2 linked regions of the Homo sapiens genome follow. The protein of the gene in region 2 interacts with the protein of the main gene of each other region in a biochemical or structural test. Each region holds a gene or a part of one and is shown on either strand. Other genes may lie near its edges. The genes, in order: SYT13 and NRXN1.

Region 1 (16,426 bases), on a different chromosome or scaffold from region 2:
TCCTCCCAGCAACTCAGTCTTAGGGAACAAGCCTCAGAGACCTCCCTGGCTTGGGGCTGGAAGGGAGGTTGGAATCTTGAATGGGGCAGAGGGCTAGAGGAGACCCATAGCCCAGGATCTGGGATTCCTAGTGTCTGCTCCTAGTCTTGGCTCTAACTTGCCATGCAAAGACTCTCTCTGCCGTCATGGAAAATGCCATGCTGTGTGTATTACCTTTACTGCTATGAAGTACTGTCCCCATTTCAATCCAGTTATACTCTGTGTGCTCCTACGATGTGGCAGACACTGCAGGACACTCTACCTTCCTCCGTTTGTGTAGGTGAGCATGAAGGGTGGAGCCCCACCACTCAGGAGTGTACAGACTAGGGGACAAATTGGCACAGACAAATGATGACGATATTTGATGTGTTCCACCCTGAGCCATGTAAGAGAGACCTAACCAATGTGCTCTGATAAAGAATTCTAGAAGGCCCCGTGTGCTAGGCTCTGAAGGAGCAATCAGGGCTGGGGGCAGGCCCAGAGCCCGGTGGTCCATGCAATCCCCAGACTCAAGATGATTTCCCCATATCTGCTGTTGGGGGGCCACAAGTGGGAAAGAAGGGTCTTCTGAGATGCCACAGCCCTCAAGAGAGGGGACCCTTGGGGAGAAAATCATTGTTTCCCATGCGCCAGGACAGCAAGGGGATCTGGGAAGGTCAGGGCTACAAGATGGTATGTAGTTACTTAGGCCCCTGGGTCAAAGCTCATCTAAGGGCCTGCACTGTGGTTCCTTGAGGAAACCTTCTGGGTGACTAGTCTCTCAACCAGATTGGCAGTGCTATACTGATCTAAAGACTGTATAACCTGCATAGCCCCAAATAGGTGTTATTATATTAGCCCCTTTCCAGAAAATGTTTGACAACCCTCATGCTAAAGCAAAAAGCAAAATACTGATTAGGGCACTATTTTTTTTTTTTTTTTTTTTTTTTAGACAGAGTCTCGCTCTGTTGCCAGGCTGGAGTGCAGTGGCGCGATCTCGGCTCACTGCAACCTCTGCCTCCTGGGTTCAAGCGATTCTCGTGCCTCAGCCTCCTGAGTAGCTGGGATTACAGCCACACGCCACCACGCCCAGCTAATTTTTGTATTTTTAGTAGAGACAGGGTTTCACCATGTTGGCCAGGATGGTCTTGATCTCCTGACCTTGTGATCTACCCCACCTCAGCCTCCCAAAGTCCTGGGATTACAGGCATGAGTCACTGCACCCGGCCAAGGGTACTATTTTTTAATGCTCACCATCAGTTACTATGCTTAGGACTCTACCTGAGTGCTGCCACTCTCCAAATCAACCAGATGAGAGAGACACCATGACTATCCCTCTTACAGATGAGGAAACAGGGTCATAGCAGTTCAGGAATCCACACAGGGTCCCACAGCCAGGAAATGGCAGACCTTGAGGCCGGGTTGGTCTGACTCGAAATCCTGTGCTATCTCATTACCTGCCATGAAAGCCACCTGACAAATATGAGGTGTGACCAGCAGGCACCTTTCCTAATAGACACCCAGACTGCAGGAGGGAAGAGTACGTTTCACCCGCTGTCTGCTCCTCTTTTTGCTATGATTTCCTCCTTGCTCCATTTTTTCCTCTTTCCCAGGCTCAGAAAATTGTTAGAAAAATCACAGCCACTCTCAGATGGAACTCAGCTGTTCCAAAGCCCACTCTCTAATTAGTGTGTGATTTGGGACTTCTGTGGAATCACAGATGGGGATCCTGGGAGAAGGCATCAATACTTAGGATTATTAAACTAGTAAACTAGCTTTCTCTCGAGATGCAGAGACTCCCCTGCTGGGCTCTGAGACTTGGTACAGCCCCAAAGGGCAGAAATCCAGCCAATCTAGGCAGAAGTCTCAGGCACCTAGCAGCTTCTCTCACTGCCCTCTAGAAGAGCAGCCATCATTCACTCATTCATTCATTCTGCAAATACCTTGCCCAGTTTCTACCATGTGCCAGGCGCTGTGCCAAGAGCTGGGGACATAGCAACAGTAATTAAGATGAAGCCCTGACCTTGCAGCTCATCCATCCTAATAATTATCATACTTTCTGTAGCTGTTTCTGTTCTGCAAATATGTACTCACAACCACTTTGATCACTGACCTGTTTACTACAAATGTGAACAACCTCAGAGGGTGGCATGGAGTCAGAAGTAGGAGGTGACTTTCTGGGTGTATAGGGCAGGAGAAAGCTGGAAGTCCAGGCCAGGCAGCCCCTCGCCCCAGCTAGAGGGTGTGGGCTGATTTGAACAAGGTGAGTGGAGCCCTCAGTCATTGCAGCCCAGATGTTTTTCTTCTCTAGGCCAGATGGGTTAACAGACTTGCCCACGGTGCCCAGTTCTAGCTGGAAGATACTCAGCCAAAAGTGCCATGTGCATCAAGAGTGACTCACAGGGCAATCCACTCCAAGAGCAGTCTTTGATTATTATTATTATATTTTAAGTTCTAGGATACATGTGCAGAACGTGTAGGTTTGTTACATAGGTACACATGTGCCATGTTGGTTTGCTGCGCTCATCAACTAGTCATCTACATTAGGTATTTCTCCTAATGCTATCCCTCCCCCAGGCCCCCACCCCTGACATGCCCTGGTGTGTGATGTTCCCCTCCCTGTGTCCAAGTGATCTCATTGTTCAATTCCCACCTAAGAGTGAGAACATGTGGTGTTTGGTTTTCAGTTCCTGTATTAGTTTGCTGAGAATGATAGTTTCCAGCTTCATCCATATCCCTGCAAAGGACATGATCTCATTCCTTTTTTATGGCTGCATAGTATTCCGTGCTGTATATGGGCCACATATTCTTTATTCAGTCTATCATTGATGGACATTTGGGTTGGTTCCAAGTCTGCTATTGTGAATAGTGCTGCAATAAACATATGTGTGTATGTGTCTTTATAGTAGCATGATTTATAATCCTTTGGGTATATACCCAGTAATGGGATGGCTGGGTCAAATGGTATTTCTAGTTCTAGATCCTTGAGGAATTGCCACACTGTCTTCCACAATGGTTGAACTAGTTTACAGTCCCACCAACAGTGTAAAAGCATTCCTTTTTCTCCACATCCTCTCCAGCTTCTGTTGTTTCCTGACTTTAATGATCGCCATTCTAACTGGCGTGAGATGGTATCTCATTGTGGTTTTGATTTGCATTTCTCTGATAAGCAGTGATGATGAGCATTTTTTCATATGTCTGTTGGCTGCATAAATGTCTTCTTTTGAGAAGTGTCTGTTCATATCCTTTGCCCACTTTTTGATGGGGCTGTTTGTTTTTTTTCTTGTAAATTTGTTTAATTTCTTTGTAGATTCTGGATATTAGCCTCCAAGGGTAGTCTTGCATGGTTCACTAAGACCTGAGAGAAAGAGAGGGGCAGGGAAAACCAGGGAAAGGAAGAAGAAAGAAAGGATTACTTTAGTCTGCAGGTACTTTCAGCAGCAGTGCCCAGGGAGCAGGTGTTGAAATTGTCTGGCTATGGTGCAGCCGGCTAGGCTAGTTAGACCTCACCCTATGCAAAAGTGAAAAGCCCTGCAGAGGCTGACAGGTGCTGACTCCTCTCACCTGGTCTGTAGGTAGCAGAGGACTCAAGTCTGGTAACCCTGTGGCTATAGCCCGGGCTACCTGTGGCCCTCTAATAATCAGTGATGAGCCAGGAGGCTGGTGCCCATCCCAACTCTGCAGTCACCTCTCTGGGTGCCTGGTACAAGTCCCTGGGCCTCAGTTCCTTCACTGTGAAATGAGAGGGTTAGGGAGGGCTGTCAACTGAGAAAGCTGGAGAGCCATGGATTCAGGACTTAAGTTTTGCTGTCAGACTGGACCTCCTTTCCAAGGCTTGGTTTTGCCACTTCCTGCCTACATGACCTCTGGCAATGATGTTCCCTTTCTGAATCTGAGGTTCTTGTGCTTAAAATGGGAACAAAATCAGTAGCCCTCTTGAGGTTGTCATCAAGATTATAAATGGAATGTGTTACCCTTTTTTCACAAATGTTTATTGTGTGCCCACTGTGTCCCAGGTGCTGGAGTTGCATAGTGTGAATGGAGGCCACAGTGGAGCTTACTTTCTAGTGGGATGGACAATGTAATTGCACTTCACACACAGTGTTTAATAAATGTTAGCTGCTACCATTCATTTCATTGCCAAGATCCTTTGAGGCTCCCAAATCATTTCTTCATATGACCAGTCCCTCAAGACTTGTGGAATCATTGGGGTCATGCAGAAATGGAGGCTTAGAAAAGTTAAGTAACTTACCCAAGGTCATAGAGGTAGTAAATGGTAGGATTGGAACTCAGACACAGTTAATCTGGTTTAGAGTCTATGCTCTCAGCATTACTCTTATTCTGGGTTATTAATAATTGTTGTTTTGACTGTTGTCATTAGAATTGTAATTTATGACCTTTACTAAGAACTTGCTATATGCATTTTCTCACTTCATCCTCTGATATCTATATTTCTTCATAGCATTTAATGCTGCCCGATGTTATATATTTAATCACTTCCTTTCTGTCTTCCCCATGTGACTGCAAGCTTCTTTGAGACTGATTCTGTTTAGTTCATGGCTTTAATTATGGCATCTGGAATATAGTAGGTGCATTGCATATGCTTGCTGAATGAATGAATCCACTAGAGGCCACAGTGAGCAAAGAAAAACCGATTTCAACCCTTCTGAGTGCCTGGTCCAGGATGGATGAACAGACATCCTGGGTGTGACAGAAGGGGAGGAAGCTTAGGGAGTCACGGTGGCTGTTAGCCAGGGCTCCAGCCTGGTACCAGACCTCATTGAATTACCCTCATTGCACAGCTGGGAAAGAGGGACAAAGCTGGAGGGAAGGGCCACAGGACTGAAAGCTGTGACATCTGGAGGGACAAGCTTCCATGGGGCCTTCCCCCACTCCCACTCCCCACTCCATCTTGGCACAGCAGGCCACACATCTGCCTCTTCCTTGGGATTTCGAGGGAAGGGCATCTTCTTCCTGCTCAACAGAGGAGACTTCTGACCTTCAGCTGATCCCTGCCCACACACTCCCTTCTCTTTCCTGCCAGGTCTCCCCAGAGCTTGGATTGCAACCAAACACCCACCTCCTAGGAGGGGTCTTTCGGTCATTCTTGTCCCTTGACGGATTTGTTGAAATTCCAAATAAACTCCTGTACGAATTTCAGGAGAGTTACTCTAAAGCTGCGTGCAGGGATAGATGTGTTTGTTTGGATGCCTCACAGGGGCATCAGCACCTCCTTCAAGGTGTGGTTATTGCCAGTTGCCTCTGGGCATGATCTACCATCATACACCCCAGCACTTCATTGACATTACTTGTCATTCTGTTGATGAAGCAACCTCCTGGAGCTGGAAAGAACTATCTTTTCAAACATAGTAATGAATTACAATTCTCCCGCTGCCCCAGGAACCTGATGGGTCCATGCAGGGATTCTGAAACTGTTCTCTGAGGCCCTAGAGGACAGAGGTGTCCCAGGAGCTTGGGGGTGGCAGAAGGTGAAGGGTAATGGGGAATTCTGGCCTCCTCCCCGCTGCTGCATTCTGAGTAGCCTTTCTTTGTTCTGTTTTGTATGTTGGATTTGAGTATATGGTATATGAAAAATCACATTTTGAGGCAAACAAAGAAACTGCTATTGAAGCGCATGCCGCATGGAATTCCTCTGTGCCTTGCTCTCTTCTGCAAGGGTGGACACCCCAGCATTGACGGGTAAATGGTTTCAAGGATGCGTGTTGGATGCAAATCCAGCATGGTTCCAGCTTCAGCATTTGTTGATGGGTTGGAAGGCGTCCCCAGGTGAGACTCCCCTCCTGCATCTCCTTTTCTGTTTCAGGAGCCATCTGCAGGAGCTGGAGAGGTCCTACTATCCATCAGCTACCTCCCGGCTGCCAACCGCCTCCTGGTGGTGCTGATTAAAGCCAAGAACCTCCACTCTAACCAGTCCAAGGAGCTCCTGGGGAAGGGTGAGTGAGATGTGAGAGGATGGCCAAGGCCCCTCCAGCTACCGGGAGTGTGTGCTGAGGGAGGTGGTGCCTGGGAGGAAATGGTCACAGGTAAGCAGGGAGGTGGAATATGAGCACATCTACGGAGCCATGCTCAGCGGTGTTCTTCACCCTAAGTTCACAAATTGATTTTCGAGGACACACTCACTTCTATGAGTTCCCATCCATTTACTCTTGGATCAATCCCATCCATTAGGACCCCAGTGTGAGCTACCTGGGGTTCCCTACCTTGGAGATCCACTATGAGAACCATCAGCCCTAACCACAGAGCACAAGAAGCCAAGGGTCAGACTATAGCCGTGGAGTGAAGGGCCTGGGCTGTCGGGAAAACTTGGCCCAGCCCTTGTCACCCACACCTGGCTGGACCCACCTTTCAGGCAGATGTCAGGAAGGCCAGGTTATTCCCCTCCTGTCTGAACTCACCACCACTGCACTCCTGCCACCCACCCCAGTCTCTTCTCTCTTCTCAGCCTTTGCCAACTGCCACCCTCACACCAGCTGAGTGTGGGTGATGGCAGAAGGTGTGTGGGTACATGGGCTGAGGCCTGAGGCTTCAGGCGTCTGTGCCCCATATACCCAAATAAGCTTTTCTGCAACACCCTGGAAGCCTCAGTTTTTCCTTCTGGATACCCCAGCCCAGGTCCAGCATCTCGGAGACCAAAACAAGCTCTCCTATATGAGCAGGAAAGCATCCTCAGCTAGCCAGATAATACCTGGACTGGAAGCCACATGCGCCTAGCAAGATATAAATAAGTCTCTATTTATAGCAGGGTACAAATAAAGAATTGCCACTGCATTCTGAATTTCGAGCAAAAGACTTGGGGCTAATGGAATCAGAAGAGTTGGTCTTGCTGGCAGGTTCCTGAGTCAAAGGTCAAAGTTCAATGCTTTTATCTCATTCCCTTTAGACAATTCTTTGCTTCTTGCTCTCTTTTATAGCTCCTGTCAGGACAATTACAGTACAACACTTCGTCTCTCAACTCTCTCTGTAGAAATAACAAACTAACCTCCCAGAGGTGATAATTACAGCAATAAATACAAAGTAACAATTATTCTCACATTAGCTTTGGAAACATTGACTAAGTAATCCAGTCCAGCCTTGTGATGTGACATGAAAGCTCGCCTGGTGACCTGTTTGTGGATTTCCTTGGGGCCAGCTCTCTTGGTGCAGTGCCCTGGGTTTGGGGGAGCGTGCAGGAACAGGCAGTCTGCCTTCATCCCTCTTCCACATGAAGTTGGGGGTCTTCAAATAAAACTTTAAAAAGTACGGATGAGAAGAACTCAACCAACCAGCAGGGGATCTCCTATTTTGATAACAGACAAACATGCTTACACCAAGAATCAAGGGGATGAAGAGTTGGGAGCTGGCTTCATTTTTCTGGTCTGAGTTTAAAATCCAGCTGCAGGACCCCTGAGCTGTTGTCATGGACCTGGTTTGATGTGAGGATATGAAGTCATGTAGCAAAGGTGGTTCCCTCTTGGTACTCTAACATGCCCCAATCACAGGCCACCCAGTGGCCAGCCTTCTATATCATGGTATTGGCCGTTTCCTACACTTTAGTGTCAGTTCTATGGAGGCAAGAACTTCTGCTGCATCCCCACTTCTAGACCAGTGCCTGCCATAGGGTAGGCACTTAATATTTGTTGAATGAATGCATGGCCTAGTGGGGGAGTGGAGAATAATCCCCAATGCAAGGAAATGAAAGCATCCTGGATCGACTCCTAGAGTTATAGATTGTCCGGGTGGGATGCTTTCCTGCTGGTATAGCAGAGCCTTCTATGGTCACATAGACTTGGGACCTGTGCTGGGGTATCCAGAAGGAAAAACTGAGGCCTCTAAGATGTTTGGGTATATGGGGCACAGATGTCCGAACTCTTGAGCATCTTTCCAGCACCAGGAGGGAGCTTTGTCCTGGGCCCTGCCAGATCCCAGAAACTCACTCTTGTCCCTTCTCTCTGTCTCTTTTTCCCCTCTGCCCCTCCCCAGATGTCTCTGTCAAGGTGACCTTGAAGCACCAGGCTCGGAAGCTGAAGAAGAAGCAGACTAAACGAGCTAAGCACAAGATCAACCCCGTGTGGAACGAGATGATCATGTTTGAGCTGCCTGACGACCTGCTGCAGGCCTCCAGTGTGGAGCTGGAAGTGCTGGGCCAGGACGATTCAGGGCAGAGCTGTGCGCTTGGCCACTGCAGCCTGGGCCTGCACACCTCGGGCTCTGAGCGCAGCCACTGGGAGGAGATGCTCAAAAACCCTCGCCGGCAGATTGCCATGTGGCACCAGCTGCACCTGTAACCAGCTGCCCAGCTGCCTCCCTTCTTGGACAGCCCTGACCCGTCCTCTGCAACCTCCTTTCTGTGCCCCTTTCCTCATTCTGACACCCAGAAGACAGTGACAGATGTGTTTGCAAGGCTGGGATGGCTCTCTCATCATACTCTTGTTTCTTAGAAATAAGCAAGACAGAGCAGGAAATGGAATATGCGGGTCACACTGAGGAATGCATTTTGCTCATCTGTGTTATTGAAGGAGGTGCTTATTAAATACAGTTCCTATGCCTGTTTTATAGGTGGGGTTAGGCCAGATGCAGAGAAAGCTAAATGTGGGAATCATGGATGCAAAGAAGAATTTGGCTTTTTGAAAAACAAGCATTTCAAAAATGATGAAGGAAGTGAAAGTATCCTGGATCAACTCCTAGAGTTAGAGATTGCCCAGGTGGAAAGAAACCTTAGCCAGCGTTCAATCAAGCTCACCATGCAGGGCAGTCACCCGGCAGTTCTCAAACTTTAGCATGTGAAGAGTCACCAGCAGATTCCTGGGCTCGCCTGGAGACATTCCTAGTCGGTATTCCTGGTCGAAGCCCAGGAGCCTTCCTTTTTAACAAGCTGATGTAGAGGGTGGAGCACTGTATGTGGAGAAATTCCTTCTACAATATTCCACACAGGTTTTTGGCCACAGTCCTTGATGGAGTCCCAAAACCATGGTGCAGCCAGTTCCAATGCTGGACACCTCAACCATCAGGGTGAAATCTGGGGCCTCAGCTTTTTAATTTAATTATTTTAATTCTTAATACTTTAATTTGTGCATTTCATAAGCCCCCTGCTCTTGGACTGAATTTTGTGCTTTTTATTGAAGAATTTTATTGTTTTTATCTTAAAATCAGTTTCTATTATCCTTGGGGAGACCATCCCTAACAAAGTACAGGTGGGATCTCCTGTGAGTCATTGGCTGGGTTCTGATTGCTAGATGTCACACCCACCAGCATCACCAAAGTGACTCTGAGATAGACCGGTCCCTTCTCAGCGTTCCAGTCACTTCAGGAGGAATTTAGTTATTGACTTAGTCTATGACATCTGGCTACATGTAGGTAGAGAAGAAAGATAATTTTAAAAAGGAAATCAGGTCTTTTGCAACTGTGCCTCCCTCTGTCTGTTTTCACTTGAATGGGTAAATAACCAGCAGCTAGGTTTTGAATTCCTACCTTGTTATTCTAAACAGATGTCCACATTGTTAATTAAATCTAAATTATGAGCCTTGCTGAGTGGATACGGTACTTACACCTGAACCAGGATTCCTGGGTTCTGTTGTTGACATTGCCCTTCAGCACCTGTTTGGCCAGCTGTGTAAGATAGGACTAATGACTAGGAAGCCTACCCCAATGAATGATATACTAGATGAAATAGTGTTCAAAACCTGTAGGCACTCTCTGGCTAAAAACAAACTCTGAGGCCACCAGCAGATCATCTTTAAGCTAAGTTACTATTTTTCACCTTTTTTTTTAGACGGAGTTTTGCTCTTTGTTGCCCAGGCTGGAGTGCAGTGGCACGATCTCGGCTCACTGCAACCTCCGCCTCCCAAGTTCAAGCGATTCTCCTCTCTCAGCCTCCTGGGTAGCTGGGATTACAGGTGCCCACCAACATGCCTGGCTAATTTTTGTACTTTTAGTAGAGATGGGGTTTCACCATGTTGGCCAGGCTGGTCTTCAACTCCAGATCTCAGGTGATCTACCCTCCTCGGCCTCCCAAAGTACTGGGATTACAGGCCTGAGCCACCGCGCCCGGCCTATTTTTCACTTTAATTTGGCAGCTGAGAATGCCCAGAAAGTGCCAGAAGCATCGTGGCATTTCCAGAACCATGGATTCTGCCTTTGGACCCCTCTCTATTAATATTAAAACTCTGGGCCTTCAGATGTCACCCTAATCCACTTCCCTAAGACAGAATTTCTGGACAAGATGGGTAAGGGCTTCATTCCTTCAACAAGTCAAGTCATACTTGGCCTCTCCCTGAGAATCTGAGCAGGAGCCTTATAACCTGTGGTCATTATTTTTTCTTTCTGTACAGAAATAGAAAAGCATTAGAAATAACTTCTAACCATCCTCTGAAAAAACAGAAAAAATATCGAATCCCTCTTTCATGAGAAGTCTTTTGGATAATTGGAAACCTTCATCACTGAGGTTGGCCAGCCCCTGCCAAGTGTTGTGTAGGCAAAGCACTTGTTAGTGGCTTCCTATGAAATGTTTTAGAGATCTCTTCACCATACTGGTTTCTTCTCTTTGGTTGGTGTGGGTAAAAGAAAACAAAACATTTCCTATAAGCTGAAAGCTGACCAGCATTCTCTTCTTGGTAACATCTACTACTCCAATCTAGAAAATTTGGATTCTAGACCAAAAATCAGGAAACATGGCTCCTTATAAATCTGTGCAGCTGCCTTATAGTACCATCAAAGGAATTTCAGGTGGGCTGGGCGGGGCCCCGATCCCAGAATTATCAACTCCACCCATCATCATTTGGTCATGAAGCATCCTTTCATTCTTCTTCTTCTTTTTTTTGGGGGGGCGGGGCGGGGGAGGGATCTCAAAGTTTTAGTCTTCCAGAATCCAAATTAAAGGTTGCCCCTGATGGGGGCCAGGTTCCGCCACAGAACATCTTAGATGTCAGCCTTGACCTCACTTAGCAGGGATTACAGAAATGAGATACATTTTGAAGGAGAGTTGTCTGTTATGTTCACTGTATTCTAAGTGCCTGGGATAAAGCTGTCTCATGGGTGCTCCATATATATTCATATATATTTGTTGAGTGAATTAATGAATTAAGAGTGGCTGGCAGAGTAGGCAGAAAAAGACACTGCAAATGGCATAAAAATTAAAGTCCTAGCTGAGTTCTCAATGGTAAAGGCATCAGATGTCTTAGCAGTCAAGCTAGAAATTCATGACAATGAGTATTACTATTTGCCTAATGGCAACTCATTGCTCTCCATGTAAATGTAATCAACAGATGAAGAGAATATAATTGCTCTGCTTTTCCACTAAAACTCCATCTTAGTGAATTTTAAATTATCCAGAGATGTCAAACTGCCAAATAAAAATATTTCAGTAGTCTTTGCATCAGCTTACCTTGTACCAGAAACATTTCCAATTTACTATCAAATTATAGTAACTGAGCCTGTGTGAAGTATCTCATCATTTTCGAAAGGAACACCTTGTGTGATGCCAGTGAGCATTTCTAAAAAGGGTGTGAGGTAGAGGTAAAAATAAGGTGAGAGACCATTTCAGAATGCACTGTTGCTCAAAAAGGTGATCTGGTTCTTTCTTCAGAGATTTCTACGGGGATAGAAAATCGGGAGTCTGCCCTCATTAATCTGTGATTCCACCTCTTGCACCAAATCAATATCTATTTGTTGAGCACTTATTGATTAAGACCTTGCATATGTCTGTCCATTTTGATTTGAGATACAACTTTTTGTGTGGGTTGAATGACAAATCACTCCAAACAAAGCTGGGCACAGAGAATCAGCTAGGAGACCAGTTATTCAGGGTCCATTTCTCTTGGATGTAAAGGAGTCCTGGGTAAAATGTGGCTGTAACCTAAACCAACTAGTCCTTGTGATTTGTTTCTGCCCTCTGTGTTTCCTGTTGTCAAATGCTAAGTGTGTGTTTTGCAGTCATGAACTAAAGCACAAAAAGATGCATGAGACATTGTAGTCATATGTCTGGTGTGACACTTTGGAGCAAAAACCTTGCAGTGGTAAATAAAAAATTTCCAACAGGGTCAGCTGCCTGGTGTTTTCTTTTTTTCCGTTTTACCTAATATTTTGGCATATAAAATGCAGAAGAAATCATCTGATAAGCACTTATGAGCCACTGCCATGTTTAATAAAACTTGACAACTACAATTGAAGTACCCTCAGTGCCCTTTACTCAGAAGACCATGACCTTGGATTTGGGGTTTATCATCCCAGGCATTCCCTCATACTTTTATTACATGTCTCTGTAAGCCCTGAGTTCCATAAAGTGTTTTTAAACTTCATTTAAATTGTATCACACTATTTTCACTCAACATTAAATATTTCAGTTTCATCTGTGCAGACACATGCAGCTCCAGTTTATTTCTTTTTCACTGATGTATGATATTCCATTGTATGGATATGCCACAGTCCTATGCAGTTGATGTATATCTACATGTTTCTTTTTCTTTTTTTTTTTTTTTACTGTTACAAGAAATGCTGCTATGACATTCCTCTGCATGTCTCCTTGTGCGCTTGTGTGAGTTTCTCTAAGATATATACCCAGGAGTGAGTCATAGAGTACTCTGTGCATGTGCATGTGTGTGTACCTTGGTGGCCTTGCTTGAGTACTGAATCAAAGAGGCTACATACAATTAGGAATGCCAAGGTTGGGTGAAGCTTTTCAGGGATTTGGCTTCATTGCTGGGGAGAAAAATTTGGTGGAAACTACTAACTTCTCTTTCTTTAACATTCCCCAAAGAAATACTCCATCAATGGAAGGGTCTAGTAGCAGCCAGTGGTACTCATGAACTCCTGGTGGCAAGCAGGGACAAGGGCACTCCTGGAGTCCTGTCATCCTAAGCCTTCCTGGTGGCCACTACAGCCCTGGCCTCTGGAGGAAGAGGGATTAAGCAAGGGGCAGAGCCTGAATTTTCAAGCTAGTAGAAAATTAGCCAGGTCACACAGAATTAAAATAGAAGGTTCTTAAATAGGATAAACAATCCATAAAGAAAGCCATGAGATGTCGTTGCTTTCCAAGTCTGCACATAATTCCCTATTTTATATTATGTATACACATACATTCTATTGTAATGGCAACTAGCATTTAAATTTTCATAATAAAGTAGGATCAGTTGGTTTTATCCCACATAGTCGAATGTTATGCAGACTATGTTTCACAGGTAACTATGAATATGGCCCACCTGAACCCAAAACTCATACTTAAGAGTCTGGATTGATGTAAAAGAGAAATGGAAGAGGGAAGCAGAGTTCATGAGTCACTTTATACATGGACTTTCCATTGAAATGCTTCGAATAACAAGCACTGTTCCTGCGTATAAAATTGACTCATGTCTAGAGCATTGCCTCAGAAGCTGGGAATCTGCAACCCGGCTTGGCTTTGTGACTGACCACTGTAAAATGAATTTGGAGCAAATGATCACTAAGGCTCCTTCCAGCTTTAACATTTTGTGATTCTATGACCTAGACTGTCAACAGCTTTGGCTCCTTCCAGCTTTAACATTTTGTGATTCTATGACCTAGACTGTCAACAGCTTTTTTTTTTCTTTTTTAGACAAGGTCTGGCTCTGTCACCCAGGTCAGAGTACAGTGGCACAATCTAGGCTCACTGCATCCTTGACCTCCCAGGCTCAAGCAATCCTCCCACCTTAGCCTCCTTAGTAGCTGGGACCACAGGCACATGCCACCACACCCGGCTAATTTTTTGTATTTTTTGTAGAGATGGGATTTTGCTACGTTTTGCCCAGGCTGATCTCAAACTCCTGGACTCAGGCGATCTGCTCACTTTGGCCTCCCAAAGTACTGGATTACAGGTGTGAGTCACCACACCCAGCCAACAACTTACTTTTTACACATACCTTTAGCCTTCTATCTTGTGCATAAAACAAATTAAACCTACATACATGTGTACTTGCCCTCCCTGCCCCATGCCTGCCTGGCAATGTCCCCCGGTATCTCCTGACACTCCCTCCTGACAGCTACCCACTCCTCTAGACAACCTGAAATGGCACCTGAGGCTTCAAGTCAGCCTCTTCTCATTTGCTTAATTGCTAATGGAGCTGGTGGTAATTTTCCATCCAAGAGTTTCATTTTTTTTTTTTTTAGAGCCAGTTGGAAGCATCACCATTTCAGGAGCTCTGAACTCTAGCATCTGTTCTGTCTCCCTCCTGAGGCAGACGCCTGGCAAGGATAAAGCCACAGGATGTGGCTGTGGATGGATTTAGGGAGCTGGGCATTTTCTTAGTCCAAGTGTTGGAGAACTGTCCCCTTGCTCCACTTCCTCATCTCCTGCAGGTGAGCCAGCACAGATGGCCCCTGGCAGGGACCTCAGCAGCTTCCTCAAGCCAGAGAAGAAGACCCCTACCTTGGAGGAGGATGGGAGGAAGCCAGACTTTCTCCCAGATAGGCGCCTCCATCTCTAGAAGCCAGACGTTGCCATGGAAACTGAGCTACTGGTGGCCACTGTGTGATTTGGCCCCTGTGCTCGCTCATCCCCAGCCAGGTTTGGTCTCCTGTCAGTGCAGCCTATCCATGCTAGGGCATATAGTTCCCCAGCTCAGTTTCCCAGTGCCCTTTCTTGGTGTTTCAGGACAGCCTGTTGGCAAGTGAGCAATGGCAGAAATCCTGTTTCAGAAACCTAGGGATTACAACCAGGGACAAGCAAGGAGGAACCTGCTTTTCTAGCCAGAACAAACAGAACCTCTCTGCAGTCCCTTTCTCGGGGGCCAGGTGAGATGAGCTGCAGGAAGCAGAACAAGGTGCCCTGAGGATCTCTCTGAGAGGGGAATGGTGATTCCCATTTAGGTAGAGGCATCCACGCCAGTTGAAGATGTAAGTGGCTCTGTATTAAAAGTCACCCCAGGCAGCCCCAGGGATTCTGGATGAAAGAGGATGGCAGCAGGAAACCTTGACGCTTCCTAGCACCTCATTCACCCTGATCTTAGCGGTCGCAATGAGGATGATAATGATAATCAGCACCTAGTAAACCATGGCTCTGGGCTAAGCACTGAAGAGATAGAATAGGATAAGTGACTCATCCAAGGTCCCATAGGTTGAAAGAGGCACAGGAGGATTTCAGTCTGGGACGGTCTAAACCTAAAAGGTCTAGGCTCTGGGGTACAGCCAGTAGCCCAGGGTCTTTATTGGAAGATCACTTACATGCATAGGCAGTAGCTTAAAAATGCTACTTGGAAGCATGAACTCTGAGAATCACCAAGCTGGAAGGAACTGGAAAAGTTCTCTTTCCTATAGGAACTAGGAGGCACCTGGCTGGATTGGGCAGAACATTGTCCAAGGGGCAAGAGCAAGTTGGAATGGAGGGGAACTCAAGTGAGTACCATGGGAACAACCTCCAGCTTTGTGGAGTAGGGGCTGGGTCAAGGTTAGATGCAACCAGAGGTCAGGCGCAGGGTCTTTCTGATCAAGGAAGGAAACCAAGATAGAGACAGGCAACATGGAAGAACCTAGGACCTCAGCTGTGACCAAGACAGCATTGCAGGAGTTGCACTTCTATCAGGAGTGGCTTAAGTTCATTCACCCCTTCAATACCCACTGATTAAATGCCCACTATGTAGCTTTTCCCTTGTGGGTGTTACCATATGGAAGGGGAAGACGGACATAAAACAATCTCTGTCTTTCTCTATCTCTCTCTGTCTGTCTCTCTCTCTCTCTCACACACACACACACACACACACACACACACACACACACACACAGAGTAATTATACAGTTTAGATAGGCTGGCCAGGAAAGACCCCTTTGAGGCTGCATTTTAGATGAGACCTAAAAGAGGAGAAGAGTTCAGTCATGTAACCATCTGGGAAAGCTATCCCAGGCAGGGGGCTCATGGCATCAGAGGATCCCGAGGTAGAAAAGAGCTTAGTGAGTTGAAGGCAGTGTGGCTGGAGCCCAATGCAGGGGAGGACAAGATGAGGCTGGGAGGTAGGCAGGGCTGCACTGTGTGGGGCTGATGGGTCATAATTAGGAGTTTGGATTGAATTATAAGGGTAATGGGAAACCAGTGGAAGGTGTTAGGCAGAGCAGATGCCATGACTGAATCTAAGTTTTAAAAGATCATTCTAGAAATTGTTGCATGGTAGCCTTTCAGGTCTTCAGGCAGCTGGTCATTCTCCTAAGTCCTCTCTGGGTTGGACTCAACTTGCCCTTGAATCTTGGGGAAGGAGGGACAGGAGAAGCTGGGGAAAAGAGGGAGGAAGGGAATGGAATAGACCTCACCTCCTTATCATTTCCTACAAGCCCCACTTTGGGGAGACCAATTTCATGGTGAAGTGCAAATGGGGAGTCTTTCCTTCCCTTGCTTCCTGGTGATGAAATCATTAACATGTTCCAGATACTGCTGCAAAGGTGGGTCAAATCTGTGTAGCCCAGCATGGGGGCG
Region 2 (12,208 bases):
AACTACAAAGGAAAATATTAACAAATTGAATTACATTAACATTTAAGTTTTCTGTTTATCAAAAAAATGAAGAAGGAACAAAGGTTAATTACAGATGGGGGAAATATTTTAATACATATAACTGCACAAGCAATCATACCCGGAAAATGTAAAGAGTCCCTACAATTGATTTTAAAAGACAAGTAATCAAATTATTTAAAAATGGGCAAAAGACTTGAATAGACCCTTTTTAAAAGAGGATATCCTAACGGCCTATAAATACATGAATTAGGTACCTAACATAATTGGTCATCTGGAAATTAAAAAATAAAATGTTAATGAGATAGCAGTGAAACCAACTAGAATATCTAAAATTAAAATGATTGATAAATTTTTTTGGCCAGAAAGAGAGAAATTCTCACACACTGTTTTTCAGTGTATAAATAGTGACAACTTTGGAAATCTCTTTGTCAACAACTACTAAAATTAACCCATGACCCAGCAATTCCATTCCTAGGCATGAACCCAGTGGAATTGTGTACATATTTGCAACAAATAACATGTACAATGTTTATAAGACATTATTTGTAAGAGTCCAATACTGAAAACAATACAAATGTTTATCAACAATTGACTAGATAAATATTGGTAAATTTATAAAACTGAATTCAACATTGACAATGAACAAAATCACTGCTGCATGCAACATGGATGGATTTCACAAACATAAAGTTGAACAAAAGAAGGCGGACACAGAGTAGAACATACTGAATTATACCACTTATCTAGATAGCAAAAACAAGCAAAATTAGTTTTGGTAGTTTGAAATCAAGTTATTAATTAAATTTATGGAGGAGAGAATAGAAAATGACTAGAAGGAATAGGAGTTTAATATTCTAATATTTTATCTTGGTGAAAGTCATAAGGGTATGTTCATCTTTTGAAATTCATCAAGATCAAGACTTACGTTTTCTGTCTTGTATTATGTTATTTTATAATAAATACGTTTATTTAAACATACTGCCAGTATTAAATCACTAGAAATCTAGAATATTCCTTTTTTCTTATCCTAACATCCTATTTGGAAAGCAGGTTCACTTTGCACTGGTTACCAACTTGTCTGAGTTTGATGAGACAGAGCACACTCATAAACAACAAGTTACATGATGGAGATTTATTATTTACAAATCGGAAGCAAGGGACAACAGATGCCTGGGATCCATTGTAAACAGGTCCCCCAAGCCCCAAGAAAACTGCCTAGAATGGATGGAGCCTTGGCTGTGAGTGGCCCACTTGCCCCACAGCTGACAGACCTTAAAAGGCAGTCCGCCCTGGGTTATATATCTAAAGGGCCATGGAACTCACTGGGCAACAATTTGAAGGACGTCCTACTTCCTGGAGAGAGAGGAGCAAAGCCTGGGCTGTCCCAGGCAGTTAATTCATAACTGAAGATGTTATATTTCCTAGGGGGAACAGGAGCCAAGGCCTGGGCTATTTCACGCATTCCTCTCTATTTCAAGATATTGCATTCTCAGCAAATTCTGTCATTATTCTTGAGAACTAGAAGAAAAAGGCAGGGGGAACTCAGTGCATTAAAAGCTTCCTGGAGAATTGTCCCGCACTATCCAAGATTTATTTCTACCTAAAATGTATCGAGATGTATCTGTTTAGGGTGACGTATTCTTGCTGTCTCTATTGTGATTTCTCTTCTTATATTCAATTTCTCAAAAAGTAGACTCTAGAATAATGTCTGTATCTTATATTTATAGTTTTCTACATTTGAAAAGTACCACAATAGAATGGTACAGTGAACAAGAATATGGACTTTAGTTTCAGAAAGATTTGGTCCTCACTCTATCAGGAGCGGTCTACAAGTTTGAAGGCAAGATGGGTAGCATCTCCAAGCCATAGTTGGTTGAAAGACAAAGAGAATGAAAGTGAGAGCAAGCCTGTGTGTGTGTGTGTGTGTGTGTGTGTGTGTGTGTGTGTGTGTGAGAGAGAGAGAGAGAATGTCTAATTTTCAAGGTTGTAATGGATAAAGAAATATATATGTAAAATCATCTGCCAAATGGTCTCTTATAATAGTATTATGCATAACTATATTTTTCCATCCTCTATCATGCATCCTGTACTAGTTTCCCAGGTTTATCATAAACTATCACAAATTGGGTGGTTTAAAATATAACTGGGTGGTTTTTATAACAATAAAACATTTATTCTCTCGGAATTCTGGAGGCTAGAAGGCTAAAATCAAGGTGTCAGCCAGGTTGGTTCTTTCCCTAGGAAAAATCTGTTCCATGCCTCTCTTTGAGTAGTCTGCTGGTTGCTGGCATTACCTGGCATTTCTTGGCTATATAGTTATATCACTGCAATTTGTCTTTGTCTTCATGATTCTCTTTCTTATATCTCCTCTGTGTTTTCAAATGTGTCTCTCCTTTTAAAGATGCCTGTCACTGGATTTAGGGCACACCCTAATCCAGTATGACCTTATCTTAATTTGATTACACCTGCAAAGACCCTATTTCCAAATAGTCACATTCATAGATAAGGTGAAGACTTCAACATATCTTTTAGGGGGACAATTCAACTCCCAACATATATCATGCAGGTACTACTATAGGAGAAGCTAAGAGATTTGTCTCTGTTGCCATACAAAGCAAGTAATAAGGCTGCAGCTAGAAACACATATAACTCAGAATTCAGTGCTTCTTGTAACATACCAAACTACTCAAAACAATTATCTTCATGTTCTAAAGGTCAACTTTTAATAGCAACTGTACTGTTTTATCTATCCTATGTGCTTGGCTGAATTTAGAACATGTAAATCAATCTTTTGAAATGTTTACTAGAGAGAATAACCACCCATGATTATGAGTTTGCATGTGTACGTGTATACAAAGCTGTGAAGGGAACAAACTGGTAGGCTGTGTGCCATTTCCAACCAGCAGAGAAGTCTATTTTGTCCTGCACAGTATTGTGGTAGTAGTGGTGATTATTTTTTAATAAGCCAAGATTTTAAAATCAGAAGATTTTACATAACATTTCAGATTTCCAGCTGCTCTTGTAAAATCGTAGGATCTGGCAACACCAGACTCACATGGTCACAAGCTGTTGCGGCCGCAGAGTGAACGCCATTTTTAGAGAAGTATGAACATTTTAGGTGTCCACACTGTCTGCCAATCCTCATTGTTTTCCCAGTTTGCCTACCTCACTCATGTATGTCAAACACCAGACACTGTTAAGCATTGCAGTCTGCTCTCCTTGTTCTAGAGAAAATTAAAGTGCCTCTACTGTACTATAACTTCATTCAATGGGATGTGTACATCAAGCATATACTTAAGGATGTAGTTTATTCCTATTTCACTGATCTTCTTTCCTCAGCAAGAGAAAAACTCTTATCAAAATAAAACTCTTCCCTATTCTGCTTCACGAGTCTCTTCAAAAACCTAAGATTTTTTTTTTTTTACATAAAATGCGGGTATTATTGCTCTAATTTGTGAAGTTACAATAAAATATCTACAACTTTCTGTATTCTTAAGATATCTATCTCTGTGGGTGTCTGTAGTATTAAATGAAAAAATGTAAGTAGGACAAATGGATGAGAAAGGCAAACAAAAATGAGAAGAAAACTCTGAAAAAAAAATGAGGTTTAAAGCTATATTAAGTAGGAGGAGGGCAGTAGCTGGAAAACTGGTAAGAATTGAATATTTTTAAAAATCCATAAGCCCAACATAAAATCAAATAGGATGTGTTTTAAAAGCAAACCACAAAATGTTTCGAGATGCCATCACAGAAAATTGATTCCACAGATTTCTAGGGGGCAGAAATAGGCTAAAAAGAAGCAAAGATATTATAATAAGACTCTTGAATTTCACTGACATCCATAACTCATCACAAATCCCTTGCTCTTTTCTTAAAAGTCATAGTAAGGAATATTAAATAGCACTGGCTAAATTAAACAGATTAACTAGTTGCAGGCACCCAATAAAAATAAATTGGAAGCCACATTGTGATGAATGAGATAATTCCTTTTCTGGAGCCTAGCAGTTGAGAATGGCAGGCTTGAGTGTAGAGTTAGGTTGTGGGGAAGAAAGTTCTGTTCACAAGAAGAGAAATAAGTCATTAGAGGGGGTAATAATGACAGGCTGAAGTGTGCAACTAAATCACTGATCGAGGAAACATAAACCCTCTGGCAGGGACTTTTCACAGACTTCATCTAGCGACAGCTATTCTTCCTCAGAAAGATTTTTCCTCATTGTGGGGGAAGGAGGGGTGGAAGTAAACACAGAGGAACACACTCAGGTGTAAGTGCTGCCCTAGATTTAAAAACACTGCCCATCAAACACGCTGCAGGGTTTCCACATTGAAGCCTTTCTAGCAGGTGCATCGTTCAAAACTTAACTACTGTTCTCAAGGACCTATCTACGTGCTTTCTCTACTGCTGCTTGATACCTTAATAATTATCATTACATTAATGATTTGCAGCCATTTTAAATCACATTCTACCTTCTGATTACAGAAAATTTACATACTCAAGGAAAAGTAGCCTAATTTTACTATGTTTAAGATTTTTTCAAGTAGTAAGAAAGTATTTAACATACTGAGTTTGCTTATTTCTCCTGAAAGTTACTTAGTAAGCTTAATAGGAAATTATGTGTCTTTTTGTACATGTAAATCCTAGTCTGTTTATTCCATTTTATAGCTGAGTCTCAAACCCTAGACTTGATTACATTTCCTTGCATTTTTAAATTCATCTAGTTGTAAAATAAATTTTATATGGCAGCATGTTCAATATCTATTCTTAAACTTTTGTAACCAGAAAACTCTAATTGGTTCATATAAAGAAAACTAGAGACATTTAACTGCAAACAAAAAATGGATTATATTATTAAAATAAAGTCATGAGCTAAACAATAGAATTCCAATTGTGCAGCACTGATAATGTAATTGGTTAGAGAAATTTGATAGCAATCTGAAATTTAGTTGAATTAGCACGTAATATTTTCCTGATACTGTGATTATTTTAGTAAAAGTGGCTTCATTTTGATCATCTATAGGACAGTAAATAGAAAATCCCCTCAGCGATAAATCTTACTGTTTTTTTTGAGTTGTTTCTCATCTTAAGTGAAAATGCATTTAATGTATATCAACTGGTATTTTTCCTCATTGTTACCATGTGTTTCTTCTTCTACCCCTTATATCAGTAAAGCACCCTTCATAACTGATATCAATATTGGAATTCATAGGTATCTCAAAGCTTCCACTTTACCTTAATGTTAATTGAGAAAGTAGGTGTTTACATTGATTTCCTAATGTTAAAGCACAGGGTCTGATTGCAGCAATAAACACAGAGCATCTCTGCTGCATTCGTTTCTCAGTCAAAAAAAATCTTACTACTTAGTTTCATTTATTTTTAGTGTAGCATTAGTCTCCATGTTAGAATTCTCATTAATATTAATAACCTATGGAAATATACTTGCTTTAGGTGAGCATGCATTTCCATTTTCATTGATGCAAAATGTTTACCAGTTTATGGCATGAGATATTATTTATGTTTCCATATTTGGGTTGCCACAAATTCTCCCAATCAGACATAATCATAAACAAGCACCTTGATTTCGCAGTTACCTCATTTGTTCTGAGTGGTAGCTAGGGGCAGGAGTTGAAATCCTTAACATATTTCTGTAGCCTAAAATTAGTAGATTCCCTAAGGTGATTCAGGAGGAATTAATCCTACTTCCCACCTTCTAGAAAAATACTAGATTGTTCTTACAAATGTTAGATTGCTTCAAATTCAGATCTACAGGAATCACCTCACATCTTGCCCAGAAACAAACAAAAAAGGTAGTAACATTGAAAACACGTCACCTATAATATGTAACAAAGTACATGAATATCATATATTTCATACAGTATTAGTCATTAAGGAATGTTATGGCAAAATTCTGGAGTTGACTGTTTAGTTTCCTAGACTCCTCTTGATGAAAGTCTTAGAAAGGAAAAGGAATGAACAATTACGGGCATCTGCATTCTGCCAAGCACTTTGCTACGTATATCTGATGATCCGTTCAAAGTCAGTGTAGCAAGGGGGTTAAGATTACAGAATTGAGTTTGGATTTTTCCTCACACTGTTGCTTGCTTACTAGACTTTGACTATCTGGACTAATCTCTCTATGCTTCACTTTTTCTCATTGGTAAAATGAGTGAAATCCTAGAACCTACCTCTTAGAGTTGCTGTGAGGTTAGAATAAGTTAATGTAAGTAAAGCACTTGGAGCACTGTTTGGCGAGGAGTAGGCACAAAATTAACATTCAATGTTGACATTATCTCCACCAAGTCATATAAATGGAGATGCCATTATCTTTATTTTACTGATGACAAAACTGCCACTTAGAGAGTTGAAGTAATTTATGGAGAAACAACAGAAAAACTCATACTTTAAAATAAATTAACAACTTTTATCATTAAATTATGTTGTGATATTTGCATTCTAAGCTACAAACTGATACTTTTCTCTATGCATATTTACTGAAAAAAAAAAGATCCTGGGGCTGTCCACTTCCTTGGACTACATACAGTAAGTACCTTAAACCTGATTGCAAAGGGGATTACTCCAATACATCATCTATTCCTTCAGTTTATATAGTTTGTGTGTGTGTGTCAGGGAGGCAGTGGTGAAGAGATGTGGGAACACTGGTCTTTTTAATCTGAAAATTCACACATGCAGCATAAGAATGTCAACATTTTTTTTAAATCAAAACACCACAGAAGACATCTCAAGGAAAACCTTGATTCAGTGGAAACACTGTGTAGCCCAATTAAAGATAAAATAAAAATTCACAAAGACGAAATGAAATAAAGTAGGAAATTGTTCAGATCACATGCACTGGTGGTAAATAATGAGTTTTTATGAATCCAGGTAAAAGGCAGTGCTTTGACTCTTAAGAGTGCCTCTAGCACTACCATAATGTTCACTGATGCATGTTCACACCAGATCTTAAGAGCATCATGGAACCAAGTTAGACTTGATTTTTGAAAGTGGGCTGTCCATTCCACTTACTTTTGCAATAAGCTTTAGCTCTATACTAAACACATCGCGGTGTACCTTCTGTACTATTTGTCCTATAACCTAATGGTAGGAAAAATTGAAAAAGGCCCTGAATTAACTAGACTGTTTTTTTGTTTCAAGTTCACTGAATGAATAATTTAGATAAGTAATTTTCTGAGTCTTAGTTTTACATCATTTAAAATTAAATTTTTGTTTTAAGAATCATGTTAACAGCTATTATTTCATTACATTCCCAAAGCAATCTTATGGAATAAGCTGACAATGACTAATACCTCTATTTTATAGTCAAAGAATTCGAGTTTCAGAGAAATTCCTTCCATTGAGTCAAACAGAACACAGAGTGGGTTGTAGTTGATAAATATAGCCAAAATTCCACAATTTGGAATCCACAATTCCAAATATGTTATGTTTATTTATTCATTTCATCTTCACAACATCAAACACATGAAGAGGGAGCTATTATTATATCCATTTTACAGATGAGGTGACTGAGGCAGCATAAGATTAAGTATCTTGCTGAGGTTACAACTAATAAATGGCAGAGATTGAATTGAAGCTCAGACAATCTATTTCCCAAACATGTAACCACTTGACAAAACTGCCTCTCTAAGGGCGATAAACATATTAAAACCTGTGATACCCGCCTTCAGGTTATTTAGACCCTTTTACAAAAGTAGTGAAAGTATAAATCGGCTTATCATAGGAATGAGTTCTAGTTTTTTGGAAGAATATACATATTGTAATTGTAATATATATTATTTTGATGTTCCCAAATTTATCTAGTTCTTAAATTCTTGCTCTATAGGGCCTGGAGGCCAAAAATAGTCTTGCCTTACAGTATTTGAGGTTCAGACTATTAGGTCTGTGGCGTTGCAATAAAAATGTCTGTATCTGCTCCAAAACTAACCCAGGCTAGGAATATACAGGAATAGGAATTTAAATGTCCATAGGGTGCAAACCATAATTTAAAGCCACAGACCCCGAACTCCTCTACCACCTAATCTGTAAGCTCCCTTAGATTTAACCCCTTTCTCACCAAACCCAGCAATGCCTATTGGGCATGCCCAGTTGCATGGTTAGAGCCTCACACCCAGTTTTACTTTCACCAGGTTTTACCAGCTGCAAAAGGGAGGAGGAGACGGAGGGAAGAGTTAAACAGGTAGAAAACTTGGTTCAAGACAGAGCACAGAAGGCTGGAGAATGACGACAGGCTGCAGTAAAAAGCACCTTGTCAGACACAGTTGATCGTCGTCTGCAAGTTGGCATCTTACCCTGGTGGGTTCCTTTTACATCTTTTTGGCACAGCCTAGGCAAGTCATGAAGATTTGTTGTGATTACCCAAGGCAGAGCCACAGTAAGGGGTGGGGCAAGGGACATCGGATCTAGAAGAATGCCAGTGCCTGTGTGAGTCTTGCTTGCCCCTGCATTCCTCGAAAAGCTGCAGCTTCTTTTCAAGGGTTCCGAGCAGGAGACCAAGGTGCACAAGTAAAGCCAGAGCTCATCATAATTATCGACTCCTTGGCCCCTTCTCTTTGACTGCTGGACCCTTTCCTGGCACCCTCTCAGGTATCCCCGCCCAATCACTACCAAACCCCGGAGAAGTGGAATCTCCATACAGCTTTCCATGGGTCTAGCAGGGGCCTGGGCATGCTCAGTAGGCTACGTGGTTCTCTGGTTCGTGTTCGTTCGTTCTCTCTCTCTCTCTCTCTCTCTCTCTCTCTCTCTCTCTCTCTTTCTTTCTTTCCGATGGGGAAGAGAGGGTGGTGACAAGTTAGAAGCGCTTGCGGAAGGTCCCCGCCCCCAGGATCAGGCTCCCCCTGCAAGGGGACGATGCAAAGGTAAAAGCACCTCGCTCCGCAGCATCCAGACCTGGAGGGGCTGCGACCACGGGCCGAGCCCACCCATTCCCCAGCCAAAGGACGGGCCCGCCGCTCTCCATGGTACTGCGGAGAGCTCAGCTCCGCCCTTCTCTTTCAGAAGGACAGCACCCGGCGTCACGTAACCCAGCCTTCTCAGGCTCCACCACCGCCTTTTCCTTCCCAGCTCTTTCCCTCTCCTCCCCCTCCTCCTCCTTCTCCTCCTCCTCCTCCTCCTGCTCCCCTCCGTTGCCTGTTCTCCCCTCCCGCACTCCTGGAGATAGACGCTCAAGCCTGACGCCTCTGAAAAGGCAGCAGCAGTCGCCTTATCCATAGACCTCAGGAAATTCGCTTTGACCGATGCATGCTTCAGGCTCTGGCTCGAGCTGAGGGGAATAACCGGGCAGGTAAAGAAGCTCAATTTGGGTTGGGGGGAGGGGATGGGGCGAGGCAAGCTGAAGAAGGATATCTTTCCCCATTGTAACTGAGCCAGGATCTGCCACAAATACACAGGGAAAGATGGGTGGTGGGAGGGTGGAGGAGTGTAGATCTTGGTTGTTTTGCATGAAGCCTTTTAAATAGATGGCAAGAAGAGATGGTGGAACTGGGGTAGTAACTTAAAGGCTGAATGCAGTGATGTATTAGCAAAAGAAAGAAAATAAGAGACAGGCTAGATATCAAAGCAATAAAATATCTCTCCATATATTTCCTTCCCTACCTCATCAGCCCCACACTGTGCCCATCGTTAATTTGTGCAGTAGACCCCGAGCTCCAAGAAACTGCACTGGTATTAGAGATGGAGCTTAGAGACTGGGCGGGAAAGCCAGAGAGAATTTTGGCTGTGCATTGGTATTGAGAGACTTTGCAAAAGCCAGGGGTGAAATAATAAGCACTTCTAAAATTTCTCTCAGAGATTTCATGTTCTTTATGAAGATATATATATATATTGAAGGGTGCATGGAAAGGTGTAGGTGTGTATGTGTGTGTGATATCAGAAACATTAAAATATGCAACTGCAGCCGATGAGCGTACTGTATTGATCCTCCTAGTGACTTGGGATGAATTTGATTCTAGAAATGAAAGAAAAGATTAATGATGCTGTTAGTCTGCTTTTGAATTAGAGCGCTTCTTCTTTTGGCTGCAGTAAGGATGTTTTTCAGATCCCTTTATTTCATCCTCTAATTTGTGAACTGGCCAGGTCTTTCTGGCACCTAGAGAGAATCCTCTTTTCTCCATATAAATACAGATACTCGCTCACATACAATGAGCTTCCTCCAAGAACTGGGAAAACCAGTTAACCTCCCTGTGATAAGAATGTATATATATCTATATGTACATATATATTGCTCTACGGTTTTTCTCTCTTCCACCATCCCTTAAAATTGTCAAGGTGTGCATTAGTGGAGGAGGGCAGGAGGGACGGGAGAAAAAAGGTTATGTGATCAATGTAACATTAATTAATACAATAATTGGCTCCAACAGAGTTACACACACAAGAAAAAAAAAAAGGTTTTCTAACACATGAGCTTGAGAAAGGGTTCAAAGCACTACTCTTGATCATGATATTCCAGATTTATTTTGCAAATGACTGAAAATTTAGCAGATTCCTGAGTCCACTTAAAATATGAAAGTATACTGAATAATATGCTATTTCAGATGATTTGACGAGCCTCTTTCCTCGGGTTTGATATAGGAGAAGACAAGATATGACTGGTGATTGCTGATGGTGTGGAATGTATCAGCCATAATAAATAAGCAACTGAGATTTTTATTTCCTTTTGCTAGTGGGCAGTGTGTATGTGCGCACACCCACACTGTGTGTGTGTGTGTGTGTGTGTGTGTGTGTGTGTGTTGAAAGAGAGAGAACCAGTCATCAATTTCATCTGGGAGGAACTTGAAGTGGGATACCCTAGCTTGGTGGCTCTCAGCTGACACCTGTGGGGATTGCTCTGTACTGAAGAGAAATGCTCTCAGCTCCCCCCATGGAGAAGCAGCAGCACAATGCGGTGCCATAAATTACTGCTAGTTTCAGCTTGTAAGGGAAAAAAAGTGTTAATTGGGTAGTGAGCTTCTACATCCAGACAATAAATTTGGGGTGTGTGTGTGCATGTGTGTATGGTGTATATATATTGCAGTGTGTGTGTTTGCAAGAGGTGGGGAATATAAGAAATAGTGAGAAAAATAATGCACTTCCTTGACATGAACAGATTATACATTTGTAATTTTTTTCAAAAGGTAAGAGTAATTTTTTGGTTAAAAAATGACTTAGGAAAAAAATCAGTGATTATGATTTCTGTACCATTTCAAGAACCTGTCAGATTAGAGTTGAATAAAGAGAAGTGATTTAATAGTATAGTGAGTGATTCAAAGGTACGGTTTTAAATTCTAGCATCCTGGAGCCACTGCAGCTGAGATGACATACATGCCAACAGCTCTTCTGACCACACAAATTGTGAGGGCTGACAGCAAGATACAGACTTCAGGAGGAGTTAGATCTACACTTTTAGGCAAAATATTAAATACTTTATGCACCTTTAGAGAAGTTAATATTAGGGCAATTGAGACAATGCCAAAAACATAAATCTGGCTCCAATTAGTGGTTTTCTTTTACAACAGATTATTCATTAATATAAAGGAGAACTATACTTGTGTGAAATTTTGCAAGAGACTATCAAGAAACCATCAATATTCCTTCTAAGAAAAATAAAATGGCAGGAATGCTATACAAGTCTAAGCTGGCAGCTTCCTGCCAACAGTTTAATCTAATTTGCCAATTGTAAAATCTCTTAACTGAGATTTGAATAGGTTGTATTTTTACTGTCCACAGAACAAGCACACAACATAGGTAGAAATCCTTAAAAGCATTTGTTCTCCCCTCACATATTTTAAAAATTAAACTATCTTGCGAAAAGAAAAAGATAACCATAATCAAATTTCTCTTTAAAACTTCGGGTTACCAACTAACAGTTATAATAAACTACAAGGGTGTCATGGCTGACTGTAAAAGTGTCATATTAACTATTAGAAAATGTTAGGACTTACTTGTAGTGAGGATAACAAAAGCTCCATACAAGAAGGTTAACTCTTTGCCTTACTAATAGGACCAGGTCTACACTTGTGTTATGAGCTGAATAATGATTTATATAATACTATATTGACTTTAGACCTTAATTTTGACTTTAATTCTCTGCAGATGTCTGAGTCCTTAAAAAAGACAAGATAAAACCAAAATGCATCACCAACACACAACCAATTGATGTGCTGGCATCTTAGCTTGGCCCTGCAGAGGCAGAGAGAAAAGAAG

The links.
Region 1: the proteins of NRXN1 (region 2) and SYT13 form a complex in vitro, tested with the Homo sapiens proteins (one study listed by BioGRID).

What each region holds. Positions count from the first base shown.
Region 1 is NC_000011.10:45,235,929-45,252,354, reverse strand, and holds the end of SYT13 (synaptotagmin-13), read left to right. Parts: intron 1-5,842; coding exon 5,843-5,972; intron 5,973-7,998; coding exon 7,999-8,303; 3' UTR 8,304-12,053; downstream 12,054-16,426. UniProt on the Homo sapiens protein: May be involved in transport vesicle docking to the plasma membrane.
Region 2 is NC_000002.12:51,029,084-51,041,291, reverse strand, and holds the start of NRXN1 (neurexin-1 isoform alpha4 precursor), read left to right. Parts: upstream 1-9,159; 5' UTR 9,160-9,311; intron 9,312-12,097; 5' UTR 12,098-12,208.